2 linked regions of the Homo sapiens genome follow. Changing the gene in region 2 together with the main gene of any one other region gives a genetic interaction. Each region holds a gene or a part of one and is shown on either strand. Other genes may lie near its edges. The genes, in order: RINT1 and VPS4A.

The links.
Region 1: changes in VPS4A (region 2) and RINT1 together harm fitness more than expected from each alone (negative genetic interaction), as found in Homo sapiens cells (one large-scale study listed by BioGRID).

What each region holds. Positions count from the first base shown.
Region 1 is NC_000007.14:105,538,451-105,542,470, reverse strand, and holds part of RINT1 (RAD50-interacting protein 1), read right to left. Parts: intron 745-4,020; exon of another isoform or gene 616-744; intron 64-615; coding exon 1-63. UniProt on the Homo sapiens protein: Involved in regulation of membrane traffic between the Golgi and the endoplasmic reticulum (ER); the function is proposed to depend on its association in the NRZ complex which is believed to play a role in SNARE assembly at the ER.
Region 2 is NC_000016.10:69,321,326-69,324,483, forward strand, and holds part of VPS4A (vacuolar protein sorting-associated protein 4A), read left to right. Parts: intron 1-1,234; coding exon 1,235-1,375; intron 1,376-2,882; coding exon 2,883-2,984; 3' UTR 2,985-3,158. UniProt on the Homo sapiens protein: Involved in late steps of the endosomal multivesicular bodies (MVB) pathway. Recognizes membrane-associated ESCRT-III assemblies and catalyzes their disassembly, possibly in combination with membrane fission.

The sequences.
Region 1 (4,020 bases), on a different chromosome or scaffold from region 2:
TTCTTCTGCATTTTTTAAGGCACTTCGAATTCTTTTAGGAATTTCTGATGAAATTGTAAGTACCTGACCATAATTTTAAAAAAGAAAGAAAGAAAGAACAGCAGCAATCAGATAAAATTTTCATAATTTTTTTTTTGAGAGGGGATCTCACGCTGTTGCCCAGGCTGGAGTGCAGTGGTACCATCATAGCTCACTGCAGCCTGGACTTCCTGGGCTCAACCAATCCTCCCACCTCAACCTCCCCAGTAGTTGGGACTACACATATGCACCACTACACCTGGCTTTTCTTTTTTTTTTTTCTTTAAATAGAAATAAGGTCTCACTATGTTGCCCAGGCTGTATGTAACCTTTTTTATTAGTTCGTTCCCTTCAAAATACACATTTTTTGTAACAGAACTGAAAATCATCCATCAAAACCTTCAAAAAAAGGTTTGATTTCTTCATCCTGTACTAATCAATCCAAACATAACATGCTGTTTTATATACACACAAATAGCAGGAAGAAGTATGCCTTTGTGTTGAAAACAATAAGTGAAACAAAAAAATAAAAATAAAATAAAAAATATATGCATACATACATATACACATACATGTAGAGAAAGGGACTTAACTCACTGGCTCCAGTAAGCATCTAGAGGTCTGCCTCCATAGGCTCAGCAGAGGATCCAGCTAGAGAAAACTTATTTTATTTTTTTGAGACAGAGTTTCGTTCTGTCACCCAGGCTGGAGTGCAGTGGCGTGATCTCAGCTCACTGCAACCTCCACCTCCCGGGGTCAAGTGATTCTCCTGCCTCAGCCTCCTAAATAGCAGGAATTATAGACACGTGCCATCACGCTCGGCTAATTTTTGTATTTTTAGTAGAGACGGGGTTTCACCACGTTGGTCAGGCTGATCTCGAACTCCTGACCTCATGATCCGCCCACCCCAGCCTCCCAGAGTGCTGGGATTACAGGCATAAGCCACCGTGCCAGGCCGAGAAAACTTATTAATACATGCTCTACCTGCTAAATATTTTCCTTCAAAGCAAAGGAAGGGCCGGGCACGGTGGCTCACACCTGTAATCCCAGCAGTTTGGGAGGCCAAGACAGGCGGATCATTTGAGGTCAGGAGTTCAAGACCAGCCTGGCCAACATGATGAAACCCCATCTCTACTAAAAATACAAAAACTAGCCAGGTTTGGTGGCACACACCTTGTAATCCCAGCTCTAGAGAGGCCAAGGCAAGAATCACTTGAACCGGGAGGAGGTTGCAGTGAGCTGAGACTGCACCACCGCACTCCATCCAGCCTGGGTGACAGAGCAAGACTCCTCAAAGAAGAAAAAAAAAAATGCAAGCTGGGTGCGGTGACTCACACCTGTAATCCCAGCACTTTGGGAGGCCAAGGTGGGTGGATCACAAGGTCAGGAGTTCAAGACCAGCCTGGCCAAGATGGCAAAATCTTGTCTCTACTAAAAAATACAAAAAAATTAGCTGAGCATGGTGGCACATACCTGTAATCCCAGCACTTTGGGAGGCTGAGGCAGAGAATTTCTTAAACCCGGGAGGCAGAGGTTGCAGTGGGCCGAGACTGCGCCACTGCCATCTAGCCTGGGTGACAGAGCGAGACTCCATATCAAAAAAAAAAAAAAAAAGGAAACAAAGATCTCATTCTAACAGGCTGAGCATCTATATTTTGCCAACATACCCCAGGTGATTCTGAATTAAGGCCAGGCTAAGAAGCACTGACTTGATGAGATGATATCCAGGCAATGCCTTTAGAAAGGGCATTTAGTGGCCAGGTGCAGTGGCTCACACCTGTAATCCCAGCACTTTGGGAGGCCAAGGAGGGCAGGTCACTGGAGGTCAGGAGTTCGAGACCAGCCTAGCCAACATGGTGAAACCCTGTCTCTACTAAAAATACAAAAATTCAGCCGGGCACAGTGTCTCATGCCTGTAATCCTAGCACTTTGGGAGGCAGAAGCTGGTGGATCACTTGAGGTAAGGAGTTTGAGACCACACTTGCCAACATGGTGAAACCCCGTCTCTAATAAAAATACAAAAACTAGCCGGGTGTGGTAGTATGAGCCTGTAATCCCAGCTACTCAAGAGGCTGAGGCAGGAGAATTGGTGAAACCAGGAGGCGGAGGTTACAGTGAGCTGAGATCGCTCCACTGCACTCCAGCCTGGGCGACAGAGTGAGACTCTGTCTCAAAAAATAAAATAAAATAAATACAAATACAAAAATGAGCTGAGGATGGTGGCGCATGCCTGTAATCCCAGCTATTCAGGAGGCTGAGGCAGGAGAATCACTTGAAACCCGGAAGGCAGAGGTAGCAGTGAGCTGAGATCACACCACCACACTCCAGCCTGGGCGACAGAGGAAGACTCCATCTCAAAAAAAAAAAAAAAAAGAAAATGGCATTTATTAAGTGAATTTTTCTTATAGTATGTGGGAAAACATATACAAATATTAGTCATCAGCAAAATACAAAGAACATTATAGAATAATTTCAATCAACAGTGATTAGATACTTATTCTGTACCAGGCACTGCGCTAGAAATATGCAGATAAACAAGACACAGCATCCGTCCTTCAGGTCACTTTGGTATATAAGAGTGTTGTAAGCAAATAATTTCAACAGTGGGATTAATGCAATAAAATAGACAGGCTATATTTAATGAATGGGCACATTAATCACCTAAAGATCTTGTTGTAATACAGATTCTGATACAGTAAGTCTGAAGTAAGACTGAGATTCTGCATTTCTACAAAGCTCCCAATCTGCCTAAACTAACATGGTATCAGCAAGAGTGGGAAAGATGGGCCGGGAGCAGTGACTCACGCCTGTAATCCCAGCACTTTGGAAGGCCAAGATCCACTTTCGGGCAGATCACCTGAGGTTGGGAGTTTGAGACCAACCTGACCAACATGGAGAAACCCCATCTCTACCAAAAATACAAAATTAGCCGAGCGTGGTGGCACATGCCTATAATCCCAGCTACTTGGGAGCCTGAGGCGGGAGAATCACTCGAACCCAGGAGGTGGAGGTTGCAGTGAGCCAAGATTGTGCCATTGCACTCCAGCCTGGGCAACAAGAGTGAAACTCCAACTCAAAAAAAAAAAAAAAAAAAAAAGAGTGGGAAAGATGGGATGGATACCAGAGATGTTGAGGCTGAACTCAGATGACTTGGTGATGGGATAGAGGATGAGAGGATGATAAGAAGGAATCTAGGACTCCTAGGCTTCAGGTCTGGGTGACAGGCAAATAGTGGTGCCATTATCTAACCAAGACAGACAAGCCTCTAAAAAATGGATCAGTATAGTTTTGGACATGCTGAATTTAAGGTTCAATAAGGAACTTCAGTAAAAGTTTCTGTGGTCATTAGGGAAACAAACCTGATTACAGTGGGTAAAAGATGAATGACAAAAAGTAGAGATAGATAACAAAGGTTACTTTCTGAAGCCTGACAATCAAAGGAAAGAACTAATACCTGCTAAAAGATCATGGGTTTTTTTGTTTCTTTGTTAAGGTTTTATGGAAAAGACCTGTCTATGTGCACATGCTGAAGGGATAGGACTGGTTGACGAACACAGGGTAAAATTATAAGAGTGACACAAGTTTACTGAGGTGGCAGAGAGAACCTGGGGTATAAGGTCTGCCTTCGACTGATCCTTTGCTGAATGAAGAGGTTAAAAATGACTGCACATAAATTTGTCGATTGTGGGATAGACTATTCAACAGACTGAATTCAATGCTACTAAATTCATGCTAGGCTTCTATTTTTTTCTGCTAGGGAAAAGGAAAGGGCAGAATGGACAGGTTGGGTAGATGTCTCAAACAGAATCTGAAAGAACAGTTGAGGGGAGTAGCAGAGGAGCTGACGTTCCCATGGAAGGACTGCTGGTGGGGCTGAAGACTCAGCCAGGGTGGCAGACCACACACATAGATTGGCATCAATCTACTCAGCTGCATGACTTCCTCCAACTGGGCCCACAACAACCTGCCTGCAGGAGTGAAAAGGCAGACAAAGCCAGGCTA
Region 2 (3,158 bases):
GTTTTTTTTTTCCCAGCTCCTGGTCCTGCTCCCCGGCTGCTCAGGTGACACAGTCTCTGAGGCCTCCTGGAGAGCCGAGGGCCAGTGCCATGGGGGCTGCACCCACTGTCCCCTCCCTGCAGCTCTTCTGGAGTGTGGCCATCTCAGGGTGTGTGAAAGCAGAGGACAGGGCCACTTTACTGTCTTAACCCTGCTGCGGCCTCCTCCGTCAGCACTGTGTGCTCTTGTGCGGGGTGGACACCAAATCAGTGTTTGGAAAGTGTTGGATATAAAATGACCAGGAAGACCTGTCTATTCATTCAGCAGATCTCTGCTGAGTATTTGCTGTGGGTCCTCCTGTGTGCCCGGCCCTGTCCTAAGTGCTGGGAAGATATGAGTGACCAACAGACAAAAATCCTAGACCTTCCGTTGTTGGTGGGGAGACAGTCAACACAGTCAGTGAGTGTCTCAGAGGATGGAGATGGAGCAGGGTTAGGAGAGAGGTGTCTCGGGCATGGAGGGAAGGGCAGATGGCACTGGGGTGATGCCTGAGACAGGAGGTGAAGGTGTGAGGGAATGAGCCTTGTGGACATTGGGGGAATGTTTTGCCAAGGCAGCGGACTTCAGTTGGAAAACCACTTTGTGTTAATCTATTTTCATGCTGCTGATAAAGACATACCCGAGACTGGGAAGAAAAAGAGGTTTAATTGGCCTTACAGTTCCACATGGCTAGGGAGGCCTCAGAATCATGGTAGGAGACCAAAGGCACTTCTTACATGCTGGTGGCAAGAGAAAATGAAGAAACAAAAGTGGAAACCCCTGATAAACCCATCAGATCTCGTGAGACTTCACCATCACGAGAATAGCACGGGAAAGACCAGCCCCCATGATTCAGTTACCTCCCCCTGGGTCCCTCCCACAACATGTGGGAATTCTGGGAGATAGATACAGTTCAAGTTGAAATGTGGGTGGGGGCACAGCTAAACCATATCACACTTTTAATGTCACTGTATTCCTGGTGAGACGTGACAGTGTTAATGAGGAAGACATCAAGGCATTGGGGCTACAGATTGCCAGAGTCCCATGCAAATCATGAGTCGCTCGGACCACCCAGCCCGAGTTCTGAAGGAGCCCGTCCTCCTCAGATGCTAGGGACCCACAGAGCATTCTCTTTGGGACTTCCTTAGAGACCGGAGGGGTCGAGCCCCTCTGACACTGAGGGGCAGCTGCCCCAGTCAGATCCATTTGGTTTCAGGTCTGTGGCCCCTCTCGCACCAACCCCAGCATGATGATTGATGACCTCCTGACTCCATGCTCACCAGGGGACCCAGGAGCCATGGAGATGACTTGGATGGATGTCCCTGGGGACAAACTCTTAGAGCCTGTGGTTTGCATGGTAAGTGACTTGACAGGGGAGGGAAGAGGGCTGCACAGAGCCCAGAAAATTGAGGGTTTGGGTCCAGAATAAAAACGGTCTTCTCCAGGCCAGGCATGGTAGCTCACGCCTGTAATCCCAGCACTTTGGGAGGCCAGGGTGGGCAGATCACAAGGTTAGGAGTTCGAGACCAGCCTAGCCAATATGGAGAAACCCTGTCTCTACTAAAAATACAAAAATTAGCCGGGTGTGGTGGTGTGCACTTGTAGTCCCAGCTACTCAGGAGGCTGAGGCAGAAGGATCGCTTGAAGCCGGGAGGCAGAGGTTGCAGTGAGCAGAGATTGGGCCACTGCACTCCAGCCTGGGTGACAGAGTGAGACTCCGTCTCAAAAATAAAAAATAGTCTTCTTCTATGTCCTGGGCTGTTGAGAATGGCCTTTGTAGCTCAGGGAAGCTGGCATTACACTCACTGGGGGCCCAGAATGCAGGTGGCAGCATTAGCATTTTGTACATACAGAGAAAGGCTAGATGCAGTGGTGCAGTGATAGCTCACTGCAGGCTTGACCTCACGAGCTCACACAATCTTCTGACCTCAGCCTCCTGAGTAGCAACAGGCACACACCATCATGCCCAGCTAATTTTTCCTTTTTTTTTTAGAAACGGCCTCACAGTGTTGCCCAGGCCAGTCTGAAACTGCTGGGCTCAAGTGATCCTCTCAGCGTGGCCTCCCAAAGTGCTGGGATTACAAGCATGAGCTGAGCCACCACACCTAGCCTGCATTTTATATTCTTTAGCAAGTAAAGTCAGGTCCAGATAATATGACGTCAATCCATGGGTTTGGCTTTGCGGTGCAGTGAGGCAGTGAATGTGTCAAGACTGTGACGCAGTTGCAAAGGCAGCGCCTCACCTGCATAGCCTGGCCCGTGCCATCCTGGCAAGGGTCTGCCCTTGTGGCTGGTGTTGGGGGTGTGCAGCTAAGAAGGCTCCTGGCCGGGCGCCGTGGCTCCCGCCTGTAATCCCAGCACTTCGGGAGGCCGAGGCGGGCAGATCGCCTGAGGTCAGGAGTTCAAGAGCAGCCTGGCCAACATAGTGAAACCCCGTCTCTGCTAAAAATACAAAAATCAGCCATGTGTGGTGGCACGTGCCTGTAGTCCCAGCTATTTGGGAGGCTGAGGCAGGAGAGTCACTTGAACCGAGGAGGTGGAGGTTGCGGTGAGCCGAGATCATGCCACTGCACTCCAGCCTGGGTGACAGACTCCGTCTCCAAAAAAAAAAAAAAAAAAAAAGAAAGCAAGTTCGTAAGGGGAGTTATGAGATGATGGAGCTTAGATTCTCAGACCAGGAGGAGGCCCATCTGAGCTGCCTCGAGAGGGAAGAGGGTCCCTGCCATAGGCAGATTCAAGCAGGCCTCTGGGGTGGCCTTGAAGGCAAACCTCTTCCCACCCTCAGCTGCGCCTGTTGTGTGCTGAGGGGAGGTTGGGGACCTGGAGCCTGGCTCCTGCTCAGGCACATACTGTTGCCTTCACAGTCGGACATGCTGCGGTCTCTGGCCACCACCCGGCCCACGGTGAATGCAGACGACCTCCTGAAAGTGAAGAAATTCTCAGAGGACTTTGGGCAAGAGAGTTAAAAGCTGCTTCACTTGGGCAATGGTGAAGGTGGGAGGTTGATTGGGGCAAATCCAGGCACTCCCCATGTCAACAGCCAGACAGGGCTCCAGGGCTTGTCCCAGTCAATACAGAGTTCCCTCTGCTGTCTGGCCGTCTGCCAGGGAGCCAGAAGGAAGGGCCTTGCAGCCACAGAG